Linked DNA regions of Homo sapiens: regions 1, 2 and 4 are each reported to be linked to region 3. The links are microRNA targets in miRTarBase. Many come from high-throughput screens and were not tested one by one. Region 3 holds a microRNA gene; each other region holds the end of a gene's coding sequence.

Region 1 (5,071 bases), not on the chromosome of region 3:
CGCAGAAAGAGAGCGGCGGGGAAGGGAGGGCGAGCAGCATCTTGGATCTGGAGCTCAGAGCCCAGGTGTGGGGGGTCAGCAGGTCCGGAGGCTCTCGAAGGTGGCGCCAGGGGCTTTGGATTTGGTCCCGAGAACAAGCGGGAGCCGTTCGAATGTGTTAAGCAGGGGGAGTGAATTAGGGAGAAATCATTCCGGCTTCAGAAGGGCTTGGAAGGTCTGCAGCAGAGGTGGCGAGGCCGCTGGAGGTTTGAAATGGCTTTTAAAATAGAGAAACCGGGAGGACCGACGACCGCTCCGGCGACCGCAGTTTCCAGGCACCAGAGCTGTGTGGAATGAGGGGCGCTCAGGAGCATCCCCTTAATTCCAAGGAGATCGAGTAGCGGAAACATTTATTGAGCGTTTACTGTGTGTCACCAACTGCCCACCATAGGGAGGAAAAAAGGGAGGAGGGAGCGCGCCTTTCCACCTTCCGTGCCCCGTCCCCTCACCATGGAGTCGCGGGGCCACCTGCTCCGTGCGCATTTTCTCTCTTTCTGGCTCCCTTTGCCCCGCTTTCTCGGAAGCTCGGAGCAAGGGCGTGGAGTGCGGGGAGCAGGGCTCCGCAGGTTCAAGAGGACGCGGGCGATCGGGGGCGGGACGGATATTGGGCAGGGACGCGGGAGATGCTCAGGGTCTAGAACTGACTGCGCCGGATTCTTGTTTAGAGGGAGGTGAAGAGAGGAAGGAGGCGCGGGTGACACCGGGGGAGGCAGGAGGAGAGGGCTGGGAGGTGGGGAGAGGGGAGGACCTCATCCGGGCATGTTGCTTTGACGTTCCCTGAGACAGACATCCGGATTTGGCGATCTGGGAGAGAGCTAGAGCAGTGATGGGAATTTGGGCTTTCGCGGAAGAAAAAAAGTAACAGGACCGGGTAGAACACCCGGTAGATATGACATGAGATATGACGGGAGGTGGGTCGGGAAATCGAGAGCGTTCTCCTGTCTTGACTCCCCATCCCTTCCCTCTCACCACCCACTCCACCCCAGGTGATAAAGCCTGAAAGGTAGAGATCCAACAGCGCTAGCGGTTGAAACGTTTTTTAAAATAGAGAAAGCGAGAGGACCGACGGCGGCTCCGGTGACTGCTGAGTTTCCAGACAAGGGAGCTCTGTGCAATGAGGGGCGCACAGGAGCATGCCCTCAATTCCAAGAAGATCAGGTAGCCGGAAAATTTATTAAGCGCTTACTGTGTGCCACCTGCGTGTTTTCTGTCCAAATCAGAAAAGGATTTGGACAGAAAACACGCAGGAAGAAGGAATCAACCCCTGGTACAGCAGGCAGGCGAGGTAGGGGTAGGAGTTATGCACGTGTATGCAAGCCTGGATGGCTGGGAAGCCAACCTCCATCTAAAGGCAAGCGCGGACATGCACACACACACACACGCCTCACAAGTTGGATTGCAAGAGAGGGTGAAGTGGGCGAGGAGACCCAGTCAGCCGTGGCATTTGAGGAAGGTACATTTAGGCCACCGAATTCATTCCACCAACTTTGCACACTTGTCTTCCTTGTGCCAGGCTCTGGGACTCATTCCTTTTGAGGGTAAAAGTCTGCCTCCCTGGACTCCTGCCCCTCAGGCGCTCCCACAGCCCGGCACCGCCCCCTCGCCATTCCGGAGCCAGCGCGGGCTAAGCGGGCCTGGCCGGGGATGAGCGGAGCCACCGTCCCCATATTCCTCGGTGCCCCGGGACCGCAAGAGGGAGCCGTGGTTTCCGGAACTCCTCCCGCCCCTCCGGGCTTTTCCTCTGTTAGGCAGGTGGCGATTCGCTGTCTTTGCCTGTTATGGCCGCTGCCGTCGCCCTGGAGACAGGTGAGTAGCGCTCTGAGCCTGGAGTCTTCGCAGATAGAACTCTCCTTGGCCCAGACCTCTTCTCCCGCTTCCCCTGGGCCTCCTTCCAGGCCTCACTCCCGGCAGGATTAGTATTTGGACAGGGAGGAGAGAAGGCTCTTGCAGCGTCTAGAAAGGCTAAGGTACTCTGCAGTTTTCCTAATTTGGTTTGTTCGCACACCTTTGCTATTCAAACACGACCCCACCAGCTTCCCAGCGTGGGCGAGACTAAGGGAGAGGACTTGTGTCTTAAAGCGTGTCCTCCTTGTGTCTTAAAGCGTGTCCTTGATTGGTTTTCTGCTTCTCACATGAGCTTGCATACGTTTGAAATATCGTCGCCAGACCTGTGTATCATTGTGTTACTTGTGATTCTTATATATGCATATGTTCCATCATCTTTTAGGCTCTCTGGAGTCTCTTGTTCAGCTTGCATCCTAAGTTTTTCTTAACTGATTCAGCACGTGCTTTTGCGAAACTTAATCACTGTTAACAATTGTTACAATGCATTATTAAAATAGGGGAAGCCACAGTTATTACAGCCTACCTTAGAGATCACTGTTAAAATTCCTACATAGTGGCCCATGAGTGGTAGGTATTGTGTCTCATTTGTGTTGCTGTTTTCTTTGATGATTTCTCTTTACTTTTAAAGGTAACCCTCTTCCATGACTGTTCCTTAAAGTGGTGCGCTGTCCCAGTAGACCATGCTCTAGCTTTCCAAGCTGCTAGAACTGTCAGTGTTTCTCAGCCTTGGCACTATTGACATTTTGGGACCAGTGATTCTTCATCGTTGGCAGAGGGGAGGGTGTTGACCTGTGCACTGTAGGATGTCAGGTGGCATCCCCGGACTCTACCCGCTAGGTGCCAGTAGCACCTAATGTGCCACCCACCCCCTCCCAACAACTTTTCAACCAAACTAAAATGTCTCTAGAGGTTGCCATATATCCTCTGGGGGACAAAATCACACTTAGTTGAGAACCACTGTCCCACATTCTACACACAGAAGCCAAAAGGATATTTTTTAAATGTAAATGGCATCATGTCGTTCCCCTGTTGGAAACCCTTCAATGTTTTCCTGTTGACCTTAGAATAATCTCAAATTCCTTACTGTGGCTTAGAAGACCTTCTGTGGACTGGCCCCTGCTTGCTTTTAACTCCTCTCTTCCGTTCTGCTTCCATGTCTATATAATTGCTTCTCTCTCACTCCAGCCACACTGGCCTTCTTTCTGTTCCTTGAACATTCAAAGCTGGTTCCCATCCACCCTTTGTATTTGCTGTTCTTCTGCCTAGAATGCACCTGTTCCAGATCACTGTTCATTCACACATATCTCAGATTACATGTTAACTAATCAGCAAGGCCTTCCCTGACCATTTTATCAAAAGAAGCCACTTACTTCCATTCTCTATCACATTACCCATGTATTTCCTTCATAGTGCTAATCACAATAGAAAATTGTCTTGTTTCATCATTGCTTGTCTGCCTTTTCACCAGAGTGTAAGCTCCACTAGAGCTGGGACTTTGCCTTTTTTACTGCTATAGCCCAAGTTCCCAGAATACAGACAGTTCCCAACTTAAGATGGTTTGACTTATGATTTTTCGACTTTACAATGGTACAAAAGTGACATTCAGTAGAAATAGTACTTTAAGTACTCTTACAACCATTCTTTTTCACTTTTAGTACAGTATGCAATAAATTACATGAGATATTCAACATTTTATTATAAAACAGGCTTTCTGTTAGATGATTTTGCTCAACTTTAGGTGTTCTGAGCATGTTTAAGGTAGGCTAGGCTAAGCCATGATGTTTAGTAGGTTAGGGGTATTAAGTGCATTTTCAAATTACCATATTTTCAACTTACAATAGTTTCAACGGGAGGTAACCCCATCGTAAGTGGAGGAACATCTAGTGCCTGGCACAGAGCCGGTTCTCAATAAATATAACTCTTCTCCATCTTCTTCAAACCTCAGGCCAGGTTTCAGTGACCTCCTCTCACTTTCTAAGATTATTTTTGCTTGCTGGTGGGTTTACTGTCATTTTTAACCACATCTAACCTACCTTAAAAAAGTGTATGGATGGGGGTGCCAGGTACAAAGACTTAGCATAAAGAAAACGACCATTTACTTTGAAACATAAACAAAGGCCAATTAATAATTTATGAGTCTGTTCCTTGTCCCTCGAGTTTTTAGCAGGCATGGAATCATTCCACAGGTCATTATTTCAGTTTGGTCTCTGTTCCTAAGGGGTGAAGGTTTTCTGAGGGCTGTGGATCCCAAACTCACCTGGCTCAGAGGCTCAAACAGCCTCTCTTTGTCCATCAACCCGATTTAGACAGCATCCTGGGCCTGAAAACCTTCTGTGCTGGCTTCAAGTGAAAATAGTTCACTGGGTCAAAAGTAGGCTGGTCCAAGACGCAGGACGGTCAGTAAACGTTGGCTGTGTTCAGAAACTGCGGCTTGGCTGTTTCTTACATTGATTTATGGTTTGTTTCCATGAAACCGAAAATGATTGGTCCACCTGGCAGCTGGCTGGCTGGCTGGCAACTGGAGGCCTTTCTGTCCTGGCTGAGGGCCCTGGCCCCTTGGTGGCCTTTGGGAAGCAGCATCTCATCGGGCCGTTTTTTCGTTCTGGCGGGCGGCCGGCTTGGCCCGCGGGGTCGGGCTCTCCGCGCAGTGCAGAGACGTCTCCACCCTCAGGGACGAGGCTCTGACGTGGCGGGAGGTCGTTTCCGTGCGCTGCGAGGAGGATTCCACGTGCCGGGAGGACGCCTCGAGGATGCGAGGGAGCCGCTTCCCCGAGGGGGAGAGGGAGGGCCCCTCGCTGCGGCGCTGGGAGGTCTCCACCCGCCGGGACGACGTCTCCACGCGGTGGGACGAGGTCTCCACGCGGACCGTGGACGTCTCTGTGTAGCGGGTGGTCCCCACCCGGGGCGAAGACTGCTTGGCCCCTCGGGCTGAGGCCATTCTGCCGGCGTGAGGGGGCCAGGGAGGCCTCGGGGCACCCTACAGCCCAATGGTCACCGCAGGCAGAAGAGAGGAAAACTACGGTACTGCCATAGCCGGGAGCGCCACAACACGATGACGTGGAAGCACCATGGTCCTTCGAAGGCTAAAACACTGGACTCCTGCCCCTCAGGCGCTCCCACGGCCCGGGCCCCGCCCCCTCGCTATTTTGGAGCCAGCGCGGGTGGAGCCATCCCAGGGCTGGTCGGG
Region 2 (5,071 bases), not on the chromosome of region 3:
AGATATTCTACAAGTTGTCTCTGGCAGGTTTTAATTCTTCTTTCCCAATGCCTTTTTCTTTTTGCCTTACTGTGCTGGCCAGAACTACCATAAAATGTTCAGAAGGAATGAGAGTGGGCATCCTTGTACTTGACTTGGTAGCAGGAGGAATGCATCTAGACATTCACTAGGAAGTGTTTGCTGGAGTTTTGTAGAAGTGCCCTATCAAACTGAGGAAATTCCCTTTAAATCTTAAAGCTTTTATCTTAAATTACTAGTATGGAATCATCAAATCATTGAATTTCTGTATCTATTAATTTAATCATATGATTTTCCTCCTCTATAATTAATAGTGAATTACATTAACTTCCAAATGTTAAACCTGCCTTGCATTCCTAAGATAAACTCTGTTTGGTCAAGATGCATTATCCTGGCCGGGCATAGTGGCTCACACCTGTAATCTCAGCACTTTGGGAGGACAAGGTAGGTGGGTCACTCGAGGCCAGGAGTTTGAGACCAGCCTGGCCAACATGGCAAAACCCCATCTCTACTGAAAATACAAAAATTAGCTGGGCTGGTGGTGCATACCCGTAATCCCAGCTACTCAGGAGGCCAAGGCACAAGAGTTTCTTAAACCCAGGAGGCAGAGGTTGCAGCAAGCCGAGATCCCACCACTGCACTCCAGCCTGGGCAACAGAGTGAGACCCTGCCTCCAACAACAACAACAACAACAACAAAAAGTGTAATCCTTTTTATTTAACTTGTTGGACTTGATAAAACTCTAAGAATTCTTGTGTTGATGTTCATGAGGGATAATTGTCTTCTTTTCTTGCAATGTCTGATTTGGGGATCAAAGCAATGCTGGCCTCAGAGACAGAACTGAGTATTCTTTCCTCTTATATTTCTTGTGAGAGGTTGTGCAGAATTAGTATTATTCCCTTAAATACGTGGCAACATTTACCACTAAAGCTACCTATGTCTACCGTTTTCTTTGTGATAACACATCTTTCATAGAGCTATGTAGGTTTTCCACTTCTTCCTAAGTAAACTAATTTGTATCTTTTAAGGAATCTGCATGGGTTCATCTAAATTGTCAAATGTATTCCTAGAAGTTATTCGTAATAGTCTCTTATTATTGTTGTAATATCTGTAGAATCTGTAGTGAAGCTACCTAATTTCTGACATTGGTAATCTATCTTTTCTCCTGATCAGTCTAAAGAGAATTTTCTTGAGCTTCTCAAAGAACCAGCTTTTGGTTAATTAATTTTCTATATTTTCTCTTCCTAATGTCTAATTTCTGTTTTACTTGCATGATTTCCCCTTTTCTGTGTACACTTTTAATTTGGTCTTTTTTTCCTAGTTTCTTAAAGTGGAAGCTGAGGTCACTGATTTGAGACCTTTTTTTCTAACACAGGCATTGAGCCCTATAAATTCCCCTCAGTACTGCTTTACTTGCATCACGGGATACAAAGCCGACACAAAAGCCAACTGTATTTCTATACACCAGCAATGAACAAGTAGAAACCAAAAATCAGAAAAACAATACCATTTACAACAGCTCCAAGAAAATAGTTACAAATCTAAGAAAATATGTACAAGATCTGTATGCTAAAACTATAAAATGCTGAAGAAAGAAACTAAACATGCAAATAAATGGAGAGACACGTCATGTTCACGGATTAAAAGGCGATCATAAATATGTTAATTCTCCCCAAACTTATCTATAGATTTAATGCAATTCTAATCAAAATCCCAGCAGGACTTTTGTAGCTAAGCTAATCCTAAAATTTAAATGGAAAGGTAACACTGATACAATAGTCAAAATAATTTTAAAAGAAAAATAAAATTGGAAGAATTATATTACCAGATTTTAATACTTATTACAAAGCTATAGTCATCTTGACTTATGTGGTATTGGCAAAAGGAGAGATGTACAGATCAATGGGAGAAAATAAAAAGTCTAGAAATAGACCCATACCAATATGGCTAATTCCTGACAAAGATATAAAAGAAATTCAGCAGAGAAAGGATAGTCTTTCCAACAAATGGTGCTGGAACAACTAGACATCCATCCATATGCTCCTAAACACAAACAAAAAACATAAACCTCATACTTAAAAAAAACTTAAAATAGATCATAAATCTAAACGTTAACATGTAAAATAATAAAACATTTAGAAGAAAACAAAGGAGAATTAGGACCTAGGACTAGACAATAGTTTCTTAGACATGACAAAAAAATCACACTCTATTTTAAAAATTTAATTAATTGGACTTCATCAAATTAAAATTTTTGTTCTCTGAAAAACACTGGTAAGTAAACAAAAAGACAAGCTGGGCTAGGCATGGCGGCTCATGCCTACAATCTCAGCATTTTGGGAGGCCAAGGCAGAAGGATCACTTCAGGCCAGGAGTTCGAGACCAGCCTGGCCAACGTAGCAAGATCCCATCTCTAAAAAAAAAAAAAAAAAAAAAAAAAAATTTTTTTTTTAAAGACAAGCTACAGACTGGGAGAAAATGCTGCAAAACACATATCTGACAACATATTTGTATCCATAATATGTAGATTCTTAAACCCAATGGTAATATAACAATCCAATTTTAAGATGAACAAAAGATTTGAAGACTCTTCACCAAAGACATACAGATGACAGAAATGCACATGAAAAGATGTTCACCATCAGCCATTAGGGAAATTCAAATTAAAGCCATGATTAGATATCAGTACACACCTATCAGAATGGCTAAAATAAGAAACAGACAATACCAAGTGCTGATAAATATGCAGACCAATTGGAATTACCTTTCTGCTGAATAACAACTTTTTCTTAAACACACTATGTAAAGATGCTTTAAGTGATATTTTGATATTGTGCTTTTAGACAGACACACTCGCCAATTGACTCAGTACAAGTGTCTAGTCAGAGAATATAGGGAAAAAAATTTGAATTGCACAACATATGTGAACAAAACATAAAATGCTTTTCTTGGCATGGGTAGAAACTTCCAGACTTCCGTCTATTGTGTTCACTATTTCCTCATTTTTAAAAGTGTTCTTGGATTTAGGCTTTATTTTGTCCTTAAGCAGAACTTCTGAAAAAGTTCAAATAGTAAACATATTCAGCTTTGCATGGAGGGGCCTCTGCTGCACAACTTAACACTGCCCTCGGAGCAGAGCAACTGGAGACAACAATGGAAATGGGCATTTCCATTGCTTGTGTTTCGATAAAACTTTAAAGAACCGACTGTGGCTGGATTTGGCCCACAGGCCATAGTTTGACAACCCGGGGCTACAGTAGCAGATATATGCATTCAGAAGGCAGCAGTAGGCAGCTCACAGGCAGGACCACAGCCAGCTTTCATTGGTTCTAAGCATTTAATTAGCAGCTGCCTGGTTTTGCTGGGGAAATATCTCGCTGCTTGCAAGCACTGGTCCCAAGGTGGTCTCAAGGGATACCCCTTTTCTACTCAGACCTCATGCTTCACCAGCACATAGATGCTCTCAAGTCCATTTGCACCTGAGCAGCACGGGTGGAGCCTGGGGAATGGAGAGGGTAGGGGACTAAGTGGCAGGGCCGTGTCAAGACCCAGGTCTTTCCCAATGAACAAACTCCCCTTTACAAACAGGGAGCACCCCAAAAAATAGGAAGGAGCTCCACCTGCCCCATCGTGACAGTAACTGACGTGTTCCTCAAGGGTTATCCAGGCAGTGGAACCACTCACTGCAGCAGCATCTCCGAGGGTGGGGGCCTGCACCTGGTGATCCTGAGGCACACCGCAGGTGATGGAACAGTACCTTCGTCCTGCAGGCCACTGGTGGCCCAAGACACACAGCTACAGGGCTGGGACTGAGGCGCCCAGTCTTCATGGTATCAACAGCAGGCTTGAAGGAATATACTTTATTAATCTACCTCCCAAACGCTAAAATGCCAAAGACTAAAATGCTAACATTCAGCTAAATTAAAACAACTATTTACAGAGCACTGTCTGCAGGCCATGTGGGGCTGGGCCCATTTCTTCCCCACCCACCCACCCAGCCCATCCTCCAAACAGGCCTGGGGCCACCTGCCACCTGCAGCAGAAACACCCAGCACAGAGGACGTTTATATACACCTGGCCAAGCCCTCCACAATGGCATGCCAAGAAGGAGGGCAACAGACCAAGACAGAGACCGACAGACAGACAGATAGACATGGACAGGAGGCGAGGCTGCCAAGAAGGCCGCAGGCCAGCCTCAGTGCTTCTTCAGGCTGTAGGCCAGGCTGCTGGGGACCCTGGCGCCCTGCAGGGGCGGTGAGTTCCAGACAGCAGAGCTGGTGCGCTTGTGATAGCGGGGCTTGCTCTTCTTGAAGATATCCTCCAAGTCCAGTGGGAGAATGGTTCCAAAGAGCTCCAGAAGGTTCGGTGGGTGGTAGTACTGGTGAATGATAGCCTGGCTGAGCGGGGTGCCTGCAGGAGACCACAGACCAGACACTGCCTTGGGGCTCTCCATGAACCTCCCCATCCCTTGCCCACCACAGAGCCCTGTCACCCTCTCCAACCTCCCTACAGAGAGCTCTGTCACCCTCTTCAGCCCTGCCCCTGCCTGTACCACCATCAAACCCAGAGAACGCCCTTGTGTCACATCCTTCCAACCTTCCTCTGGCAGCTTAACCTTACAAAGTCCTTGAGAGCTCGCATGAGCCAGGCACTCCTTGAACCTGTCCCGACCACCACCTGGGAGGCAGGTTCTGTATTCTCCCATTCAGCAGATTTGCCCAAAGGCATACAGCTAATAATGGCAGAGCCTGTGTTTGAAGACAAGCCCAGTTCCAGAGCTTAAGCATAGGATGCCATCCTTGACCACCTTGGCCAGCTGCTTCTCACAGACCCCACAGGCCCTGGTGCAGTGCTGAGGGGGCCTCTGGGCAGTGGATGTGGGAAGGCACAGTCCTGACAACGGGGCTGAGGAAGACCCAGGGGATCAGGAGGCCAGACATGCACCAGCACTTGCTCAGCACCAGGTGCGGCTCTAAGGGCCAGCCGTGAGCTCACTCATGTCACTCTCAACAGAACTCCTCAGCTGGGTCTTGTCTTCACCCCCCTTTCACGG
Region 3 (5,071 bases):
TTCAACAGAATCAAAAATAACCACTATGTCCTATAATGTACTGGTATCGTTTCAGCCAGAACAAATGACATCTGACATTTTAGTTACACTCTGTGTTCTCAACTAAGAAGAAATGCAAGCTTTACATTAGGTGGTGGGTTTTTGGTTTATTTTTTGCTTTTTCAATATGGAAAATAGCTTGTGGACTATCACTAACACCTCTGTGGTAACTTAGTAATGCAGGATCTCAGCAAAGGAGATCATCAATCATGGAGGTCGAGGTTTTTCATCTTCCCCTATGACCTCACCTATAGACCTACCTGCTATTATTATAGGCAAACAAGTAGAAGAAATTTACATGTTTGACTTTGGCTCTGCAGTGATGGGTCTACTCCTAGATATCAACAGTAAGTTCTGTAGTAGACAACAGAAGCAGTATGATGAGTGAGCACTGGAAACATGAAGTCCAGTATTCAAATTCTGGCTTATAACCTTGGCTCCTGGCAATGTAACTTTAGGCAAATCACTTCAAGTTTTTTCATCAGGAAAATGTGGGTTGTTGAGAATTTAATGAGATAAAATATACAAATCCTAGTATATAGCAGATCCCCAATATATGTTAATCTCTTACCCTTGTTAACAATTAAAATACTACTGCAAAATCAGGTATTTTACATTTTTAGAATCACAAAATAATACCATTCAAAGACATTTTCTCAGACATTCATTTGAGTCTGCTTGTACAAATTACTGCACAGTCTATCCCACAGTTCATTAGTTCTCTGCTGCACACAAATTGATTTTATAATTTAAATACTCTCGACTTGAAACCCAGAGAGGAATGTAAGAGCATCCATCAGCGGTGGTCTCACTGCTCACTGGTTCTTGGGATGTGGATGGGAGAATGAAGAAGGGCTATCAGGCCAGCCTTCAGAGGACTCCAAGGAACATTCAACGCTGTCGGTGAGTTTGGGATTTGAAAAAACCACTGACCGTTGACTGTACCTTGGGGTCCTTACAGACGACACTACATTTCCTGAAGCAAAAGAGCAAGCTGTACCTTCACATGTCACATGAGTTCACCAGAAATGGTCCTGCAATCCCCCAAATGTGGTCCAGTGAATTTTATTCCTACTGCTCACTGTTCCTTGCTTTCTGTTGTGTGTTTTATTATTATTTGTTTGTTTTTACAAAAAAAGTGTTTCATTTCAACAAGGTAAGGAGCAGTCCATGATGATATCTAATGTACCTACATGTCTCCTAGATATGCACCATTCTGGTGAGAAACAGGACGTAGCAAGTAAAAATTTATTAAAAATACGTATTTTGTTTTGGAATAAAATCCAGTTAAATAATTACTCCCATTTCTCCCACATCCTCTCAAAATTTTTAATTAGGGGCAAGGGGAGGATTTAATAAGCAAAAATAGCACAAAATTATCCAATTGTGACAGTTCTTATCACATTTCACTTTGAATTATAGTTAATATGGTTAATTTTTGATATCCCAGTTAGAGCATGAGCTATTGCCTTACTAGTGCCCACATATCCCCACATATGCTTATTTAAATGTTTGCTAAATTCAAGCAAAAACTTAGCCCTGGAGTCAGTCAGATCTGGGATGAATCTTGGCTCAAGCCCTTAACTAGTTATTTGACCCCCTAAGCAAGTGTCTCAGTTTTCTCACATATAAAACAGAGGCTAAGAGTACCTATCATGGAGTTTTGAGACTCAATGAGATAATATATAAGGTGCTTTGTACCATTACTAGCCCACAGCAAATGCTCAATATATGTAAGCTGTTATTATTAAACTCCAACATAATCTGCTAATTTACCTCAAAAAAGCACTCATACTTCTCAGTTCAAAACAAAGAGGAAAAGCAGGTCCCTCAGCTGTGGTTTACAGGTACTAATATGCAAGCACTGCCTGTGTGGCGCAGTGCTACCTGTGAGGTTCTCCAAGCACTCCTTCCTTCTCTGAACCACAGCTTCCTCATCTGCAATAACCTCCCAGCTCCAATGTCAATGTTATGGACACCTGTGTGGGCCCTCAATCATGCAGATGGCTGGTTACTAAGGGAGAAGCCAGACACACAGACTTCAAAGAACTGAGATGGAAAAGAAGAGCCAGGAGTCAGCCAGGGAGGGCAAAGGCAACCCCACCAACTGAAAACACTGATGGCTGCACTCAACATTCATTGCTGTCGGTGGGTTTGAGTCTGAATCAACTCACTGATCAATGAATGCAAACTGCGGACCAAACAACCCAAAGGAAGCAAAAGCATGTGCAGAGAGTCGCCTGAGTGCAGCAGCTACTGCTGTGAGTGGGAGCTGCTACTATTTCCAAAACACTAGCTAAAGCTTTTCTTGTTCTCCTTGGTTCTAACATGGAGTAAGTTCTCTAAATTCCTAGTACTTTTCTCCTTTTTCAATAGTCTAGATTTAAGGAAATGATATTTTATAGGAAGAATTAAATACATATCTGGATATCACATCACATTTTAAAAATCAGTACATTCAGAATTTCTAAACAGAATCATATGCTTATTATTTAGAAATTCAAATACAAAAATATACAAAGTAAAAATTGAAAATCCCTTCAATCATCATCTGCAATCCATTTCCTCGGAGGAAAACATGTATAATTATAATAAACTTATTAAGATAATAAATATCATAACTAGAATTTATTTTATATCCTTGAAGACCTTTATCCATACATACACAGATAAATAGCTGTAATTTTGCATGTTTTGGGGGGAGAGTGGCTTAGACAAAAATAAGCTCATTTTTACCTATTGTTCTATAATCTATTTTGTTATTCAGCTATATATCATAGACTTCCACAACAGTCTTTTATGTACTCGTCATTCTTTTAAATGGCTATATAGTATGACTTAATATGAATGTTCTGGTTATTATTCAGATGTACATCAATATTCTCTTTTGACAAAAACTATGAGGCTCATTCATTCTAACCTTTGCAAACCATGTCCCTCAAACAGGAAAAACACCTAAGTGAGATAGAAGATGTACATTTTTCTTAACAAAAAATTTAAATGTAGTATCAACTCTCTAAATCCTGTAACATGAGATAAGCCACTAAATCCCATGTTAAAGAAAGAAAAACAAGGCCCTTGGTCATGAATAATTTATCATACACTTAAGTCTAAGAAGAAGCAGATTCTCATAGCAAAAGTCAAATAAGACAGTAAGAGAAGAGTCTTGTCAAATTAGCCTTGACAATTAAGCAAGCCTTAATTTGACAAGGCTTTCCTGTCAAATTAGGAAGGAGAAGTGATGGGGTAATGAGACAAGAACCAGAAAGAGAAATCAAAGCCAAAAGAAAAATCTAAAGAAAACTATGAGAGTTCAGAGAAAATATCAGGTTCAAGCCAGTGTTTCCCAAACTTCTTGTACACCAGAATCATCTAGAGTTGCTTTTAAAATGGCAAATTCCTGAGCCCTACTCTAGACGAGGTGATTTTGGGTCACTGGAAGCTGGAAGCAAAGTAAATAAAGTTCACTAGCTTAACATCGGCTTCCTGCCCCCATCCCACCACCACATTTCATGTCATCCACTTTTCAACTATTGCCCAACCTTTTGTGTCACCACCTGAAATCGCCACTATTCTGCTGAGTGCAGACAGGTAGAGTCACATTTGTGCTGCTTTTAAGTATCTCCAGACTACATAAAATTTTGCACCATGTTTGGTGGCCAAATATACATCAAATTGTGTCTGATGTTTTATGGAAATGAATGGATTTGGATTTACGCTATCTAAAAAACTAAAACCTACCCAAAGAAATTACCAAAAGGTTTTTTTGTGTGTGTTTTTCTTTCGTTTGTTTGTTTTTTTGAGACAGTCTTGCTCTGTTTCCCAGGCTGGAGTACAGTGATGCGATCTCGGCTCACTGCAACCTCTGCTTCCTGGGTTCAAGTGATTCTCGTGCCTCAGCCTCTCAAGTAGCTGGCCCGCCACCACACCCAGTCAATTTTTGTGTTTTTAGAAGAAATGTGTTTTTAGTAGAGCCATGTTGGCCAGGCTGGTCTCAGACTCCTGACCTCAAGTGATCCGCCCGCCTCGGCCGCCCAAATTGCTGGGATTATAGGCATGAGTCACCGCGCCCGGCCCGAGGGGGTCTTTATAGAAGAGTTTTTTGTGAGACTGGTAGACACACAGAAGGTACTCCACGCAGTCTTGTTTTTCAAGATGCTGTGCATTCTAGGCATTTATTTTTAACCAATTATTTCCAAAATTTCTGAAAACATTAGAAAAGAATGTCTGACACGTACTTTGAAAAATGTACACTTGAACAAGCATGCTATTTATTTACAGACTATTACATAGTCTTTAAATATGCCAATGAAACAATTATATATTTCATTAAACCAAATCCAAGTTTTCTCTTGGATAAAACTAAGTACTACAAGAAGGGAGACAATTATGTAAGTTAAAGGGTGTTTTCTGCAGATAGGCCTCAAAATAAATACCTGTAACAGAAAAATTACATGGCATGTATAGGGGACAGGAAGAGAATAGTCCAGAGACTGTATTAGGGAGTCATAAGGAATGGCACTGAAAAGGTAAAAGGACATATTACAGAAGGACTTGTGAGCAAGGCGCAAAGTCAATTAGTCCAACAGAGAGCCGTTTTAAATGCTAAACTCAGCAAGGAGACAATGAAAGCAAGACTGGGAAGAGTCACTAAGCAGATGAAGTGAGGGGAAGAAAAGAGAAAAAAGAGAACTTTCTTGCACAAGTTAGCAGGGGTAGAACTGAGTCAACAGGAATGGAATGAAAGGAAAGGTTATCTCAAAAAGGCATACTTTGGCTTTTGTTTTTCAAAATAAAAGCCTACTGGCTGACCCCCTTCCATCATCCTGTTCGGTGTATAGCCTCACAGATATTTCAAGATACTTAAAATGCATGTATTTATACTTAGAGAAAATAACATCACAAATTATACATAATGTTCTCTAGCTTTTTTTTTTTTTTTTTTTTGAGATGGAGTCTCGCTCTGTCACCCAGGCTGGAGTGCAGTGGTGTGATCTCGGCTCACTGCAACCTCTGCCTCCTGGGTTCAACT
Region 4 (5,071 bases), not on the chromosome of region 3:
TGGCCGGGCATGGTGGCTCATGCCTGTAATCCCAGCACTTTGGGGGGCCGAGGCAAGTGGATCACCTGAGGTCAGGAGTTTGAGACCAGCCTGGCCAACATGGTGAAACCTCGTCTCTACTAAAAATACAAAAATTAGCTAGGTGTAATAATTGTACATGCCTGTAATCCCAGCTACTTGGGAGGCTGAGGCAGGAGAATTGCTTGAACGCGGGAGGCAGAGATTGCAGTAAGCCAAGATCATACCACTGCACTCCAGCCTGGGTGACAGAGTGAGACTTCGTCTCCAAAAAAAAAAGTGTGTTCCTTAAATTCTATAATAGAGACTTTCTGTTTAGCCCAATGCAGTTTCAGACTAACTTTGCTGCTATGTGAGGTGTCAATATGAATTTTTGGCCAGGTGTGGTGGCTCATTCCTGTAATCCCAGCACTTTGGGAGGCTGAGGCAGGTGGATTGCCTGAGGTTAAGAGTTCAAGACTGGTCTGGCCAACATGGTGAAATCCCATCTCTATTAAAAATACAAAAAATTAGCCAGGCATGGTGGTGTGCACCTGTAATCCCAGCTACTCGGGAGGCTGATGCAGGGGAATGGCTTGAACCAGGGAGGTGGAGGTTGCATGAGCTGAGATCACGCCACTAGACTCCAGCCTGGGTGACACAGCAAGACTCCGTCTCAAAAAAAAAAAAAAAAGAATTTTTGGTCTGGGCTGGGTATATAATGAACACCTTTCTAAAATATGCGACTGAGAGCCAAGTTGAAGCACAGACTAATCTTTTAATCCGTACACTTAAACACCCATCTGGGCAACAGCAAAATCAGAAGTCTGCCATGCTCAATACATTTTCTTATGCCACCAAGACATTTTAAACATGTAAATAAAACAAACAGAAAGGTGGTAATCATATCCTTAGAAGCTGAATCTTGAATACAAAAACTTTAAATTGTTCCCTATTTCATCTTTATTCATTGCTTTAATTTTCTTCCATTTGGCCAGTCTCTTGCTAAATTAACATTACAGTCTGATTTTCTGAGTCTGTCATTCTAAGAAATTTCAGCTGGTTATTTTTACATTTTATTAAAAAACTTTTTTTTAAGACATGGTCTTGTGCTGTCTCTCAAGCTGGAGTGCAGTGGTGTCATCATGGCTCACGGCTGGCTCAACCTCCCAGGCTTAAGTGATCCTCCCAGCTCAGCCTCCCAAGTAGCTGGGGGCACAGTAGTGAGCCACCACGCCCTGCTATTTTTTAAAAAATTTTTGTAGAGATAGGGTCTCACTATGTTGCCCAGGCTGGTCTTGAACTCCTGGGCTCAAGTAATCCTGCCTTGGCTTCCCGAAGTGCTGGGATTATAGGTGTGAGCCACCATGCGTGGCCTCAGCTGGTTAAACACTTCCGCACCTTATACACATTTTAGAGATTTATCATTGTGGTTCAGAGTAACAGAATATTCTGAAGTTTCTTTCTTTTTTTTTTTTTTTGAGACGGAATCTCGCTGTTGCCCATGCTGGAGTGCAGTGGCACGATCTCGGCTCACTGCAACCTCCGCCTCCCAGGTTCCAGTGATTCTCCTGCCTCAGCCTCCCAAGTAGCTGGGATTACAGGCATGCGTCACCAAGTGGGTCCAGCTAATTTTTTAATATTAGTAGACACAGGGTTTCACCATGTTGGCCAGGCTGGTCTCGAACTCCTGACCTCAGGTGATCCGCCCGCCTCGGCCTCCAAAGTGCTGGGATTACAGGCGTGAGCCACCACACATGGCCTGAAGTTTCTTTTTGCCATATATTGTTTAGGTCTATTCTTACTGCCAGGTCCTGATCCTGTTTGTTGCTGCTAGTTTATTGGGCAGAGAGAAGCAAGAGTCTCGTAACTTTGGCTGGGAACATTTAGTTACTCCTAACCACAGTTCCGTCTTTACCTGGTACTGCAGGAATGAAGGCAGACAACAGAGTAGGGATAAAAGCAGGAGCTCTGCAGCCAGAATGCCCAGGTTAAAATCTGGCTTCCTCGACAACCAGCTGTGACCCTTGGCAAGTGACTTAATCCTTCAGTGCCTCGGAATCCTCATCTGTGAAATGGGGTTAAAAATACACTCCCCTCAGAGGGTTTTTGAGATAAAATAAGTTAATTTTCATAAACCACTTGGAGCAGTTTCTAGCCCATGGTAACTATTACCTACATGCTTATTAAATATCCTTATTTCTTTTTTGGAGGTTTTTAAAAAATATTTTTCTATCTCCATGGCTACACCCTCCTGCTAGAACCTAAGGATACTGAATCTATGGAGCATATTCAAGACCTGTGACTATTCCATGTCAGATATGGACGAGTAACAGAGCGTTGCTGCGCATTAAGTATGTCGTCTACAAAATGGTGCAAGTCCTGCATGCCTACCCTTTGGAGAAAAGAGTGCAATCTCTCTGCGCTAACCCACAAACACACACAAAACCTTTCCAAATCATCCTGTCAGAGATGTACTTTCACTTCAGAGAATAATTCTGTCCAACTTAGAGATTTTGTTGTTTCTGGTAATATACCACAGCATCTCACCTAAGAGTTTGCTTATTACAGATCAGAACACATTTGAACTCTAGGCTTTACGTGCAGAACACACGGAAGGTGATGCCATCAGGCTACTACCAAAGGACCCTTCTTCCAGTGTCTCAAATATATGGATTTTATAAATAAGAAACATTTCTGATTAATCAGCATTGTAGGTTCAAGTAAAAAAAAAAAAAACTGGCATAGAATTCTAGTCTTCCTACTTAATTTCCTAATGATTCTTGGTGTCCTTGTCAGAAAATTATTATTTTTTTCTTTTTTTTGAGACAGTCTCGCTCTGTCTCCTAGGCTGGAGTGCAGTGATTCGATCTCAGCTCACTGCAACCTCCGCCTCCCAGGTTCAAGCGATTCTTCTTGCCTCAGACTTCTGAGTAGCTGGGATTACAGGTGCCCGCCACCACGCCCGGCTAATTTTTATATTTTTAGTAGAGATGAGGTTTTGCCATGTTGGCCAGGCTGGTCTTAAACTCCTGACCTTGGGTAATCTGCCTGCCTTGGCCTCCCAAAGTGCTGGGATTACAAGAGTGAGCCACTACACCCGGCTGAGAAAATTATGTTTTGAAGTTCACTTTACTTTGAACGAGTCCTTTATCTGGAATTGTTCAATACATAGTTTGAGTTTATTGAACAGTCCAGTTCTTATGCCCCTTGGAGATTTTATAGTGGGGTCTTTGAAGGAAGTGCAAAGTAGGATCTCATCAAATGACTCTAGATGGTGAAATATATGTGGTCTCCAGTCAGCAACTATCAATCTTGGATGTACAAACAGCATTAAATGCCATCAATAATCCAAGTGAATACTAAGGGAATCATGATTCAAAGTAAGCTAAACAGAACCCAAGAACAGATAAAAATGCACCTTCGTTGGGGACAGTGTGGCCTAGGTAACCGACGGGTTATTGCCCTGATGAGAGGTGAGAGAGACACACCATCCCAGGACAGAACACTCACCCGCCTGTCCTCAGAGATGAAATGAGATGCCAACACTTTTTTTTTTGAAACTAAATACATTTTAATAGAAAACAAAATACAAAATAACTCTTTTCAGAAAACAGAAATATTTAATCCTTTTTCCACAAATTAGAACTTGCTTTATCCTCAGAGCATAGTTTGATATGCGTGCGTACATACTTACGATTTGTTTCACAAAGTGTTCATTAGACTGGTATTGCAGTGCAGGACGTGGGAGCAGTTCATTGCAGGAGAAAAAGACGTGGAAAAAGCCACACCTCTGAATGGTCATTCAGAAATTCAACATTTTTCTAATTCTATCTTGTTACTTATTACTCCAAATTATTCTTTATCATAATCTTTCTTTTGAGGGGAGAGAATTATTAAGAGAAGTGCAGCTTTGGAAAGAATTTTTCTTTCCCACCATCACTGCAGGAGCCCAAAGTGTTCTCAATCAAACCCACCCACCCACTTCCAGAAACATGTCAGCCAGGGTGATCAATCTGTCACCCGAAATTTCCCTTTCTCCCAATACACTGTGCTACCAAATTCTCTGAATTCCCTGAACCTCAAAATTCCAAGTATCAAAACCAGTGCCAGGAGTCAAACCTGAAAGATTAAAAGCAGAGAAGGTGCCCTCTGCCAGTGCTAGGTTTCCTCATGTCAATAATAATAATAATTATAATTATAATAACAATAATTAAAAAAAATCCTGGTTCTCTGTAATTACGGAAAAGGAAAGACTATTTGCCAGGATCATGCCCTCCCCTTTCCTCATTCCCGCCCCACATCCCTCTGCCAACAAGGACTTCCCTCCCACCTGAGGGCTGGACCATGCGTGACCCCTGCGGCGCCACTTCTCCTGAGGGTGCTCTACAGCCGCCCTCTAACCAAACCTAGCCCCAGTCAGATGGTGAAAATGAGAGACAGGAAGGTGCTCGCATGCGCGAGGTCACGGCAGAGTCTCCATGAGGACTTGTGAGTGACCTCCAGGGCACTCTAATTCTTGATCACTCATCATTGCCTCTCTCCTGTTCCCCTCCCCAACCTTGGCCTTCGACACTGGGGGGCTGAGTGAAGGGGGACCTGCCCGGAATGAGGGCCCAGGAGAGAGGGGAGGAGGGGGCTCTTTCACAGTCAATGATTCAATCTCAGCTCATTGAAGGATTGCAACTGGAGGCTTTCCACTGTTACCCCAGTCCGTTCCAACAAAGTTAAAAAATTAATGTTCCTGATTTTCTTGTGTAATTCCAGTCACCAGAAGAAGGTTACAGGCCATGAACTGCACGCTCAGGACGTTGCTCATCTGCCCGGTGTACACGCCCACGAGCTCGCTGGAGGAGCCGTCGGCAGGTGCACTGCAGTAAGTGTTCCTGATGTCCCAGACGCGCACCGAGTTGTCCATGGAGGCAGAGGCAATCAAGCCGCTGTCTGGACTGAAGGTGAGGCTGGTGATATTGTCTGTGTGGCCTCTCAACTCTTTATAAAGGGTCCCAGAGGCCAAGTCCCACAGCTTCAACCGCTGGTCCTCGCCAGCAGACGCCAAGTACTTACCGTTGGG

What was found. Region 3 holds the annotated microRNA hsa-miR-181b-5p (AACAUUCAUUGCUGUCGGUGGGU, at 2,171-2,193, shown strand). A microRNA usually pairs through its seed, bases 2 to 8, with sites in the 3' UTR of a target mRNA and lowers its output. Matches are read on the target gene's strand: a 7mer-m8 pairs with bases 2 to 8, a 7mer-A1 pairs with bases 2 to 7 and ends in A, and an 8mer does both.
Region 1: miRTarBase lists C17orf100 as a target of hsa-miR-181b-5p. Seed matches in the 3' UTR shown: 7mer-m8 at 3,483-3,489.
Region 2: the mRNA of INCENP is a reported target of hsa-miR-181b-5p. Seed matches in the 3' UTR shown: 7mer-m8 at 3,927-3,933.
Region 4: the mRNA of TAF5L is a reported target of hsa-miR-181b-5p. The part of its 3' UTR that is shown has no 7-base or 8-base seed match.

The regions. Positions count from the first base shown.
Region 1 is chr17:6,651,665-6,656,735 of GRCh38, reverse strand. C17orf100 (chromosome 17 open reading frame 100) reads right to left here and starts at 4,974. Exons shown (of 1, transcript NM_001105520.2): 1 at 3,260-4,974. The coding sequence starts at 4,822. The coding sequence ends at 4,466. MIR4520-1 (microRNA 4520-1) reads left to right here and starts at 1,227; the gene lies at 1,227-1,296. It overlaps MIR4520-2 (microRNA 4520-2), which reads right to left and starts at 1,287; the gene lies at 1,234-1,287. RefSeq lists an enhancer at 1,057-1,629 and silencers at 4,607-4,656, 4,957-5,036.
Region 2 is chr11:62,151,119-62,156,189 of GRCh38, reverse strand. It overlaps INCENP (inner centromere protein), which reads right to left. Exons shown (of 19, transcript NM_001040694.2): 19 at 3,021-4,428. The coding sequence ends at 4,214. Among named protein-coding and RNA genes, the nearest start is that of INCENP, 30 kb to the right of the region's middle.
Region 3 is chr9:124,691,555-124,696,625 of GRCh38, forward strand. MIR181B2 (microRNA 181b-2) reads left to right here and starts at 2,156; the gene lies at 2,156-2,244. The region is part of intron 2 of NR6A1 (nuclear receptor subfamily 6 group A member 1); the gene reads right to left. All of the region lies in intron 1 of MIR181A2HG (MIR181A2 host gene), which reads left to right. MIR181A2 (microRNA 181a-2) reads left to right here and starts at 888; the gene lies at 888-997. RefSeq lists an enhancer at 3,468-4,013.
Region 4 is chr1:229,589,565-229,594,635 of GRCh38, forward strand. TAF5L (TATA-box binding protein associated factor 5 like) reads right to left here. Exons shown (of 5, transcript NM_014409.4): 5 at 3,570-5,071. The coding sequence ends at 4,733. Among named protein-coding and RNA genes, the nearest start is that of ABCB10, 33 kb to the left of the region's middle. RefSeq lists an enhancer at 4,952-5,071.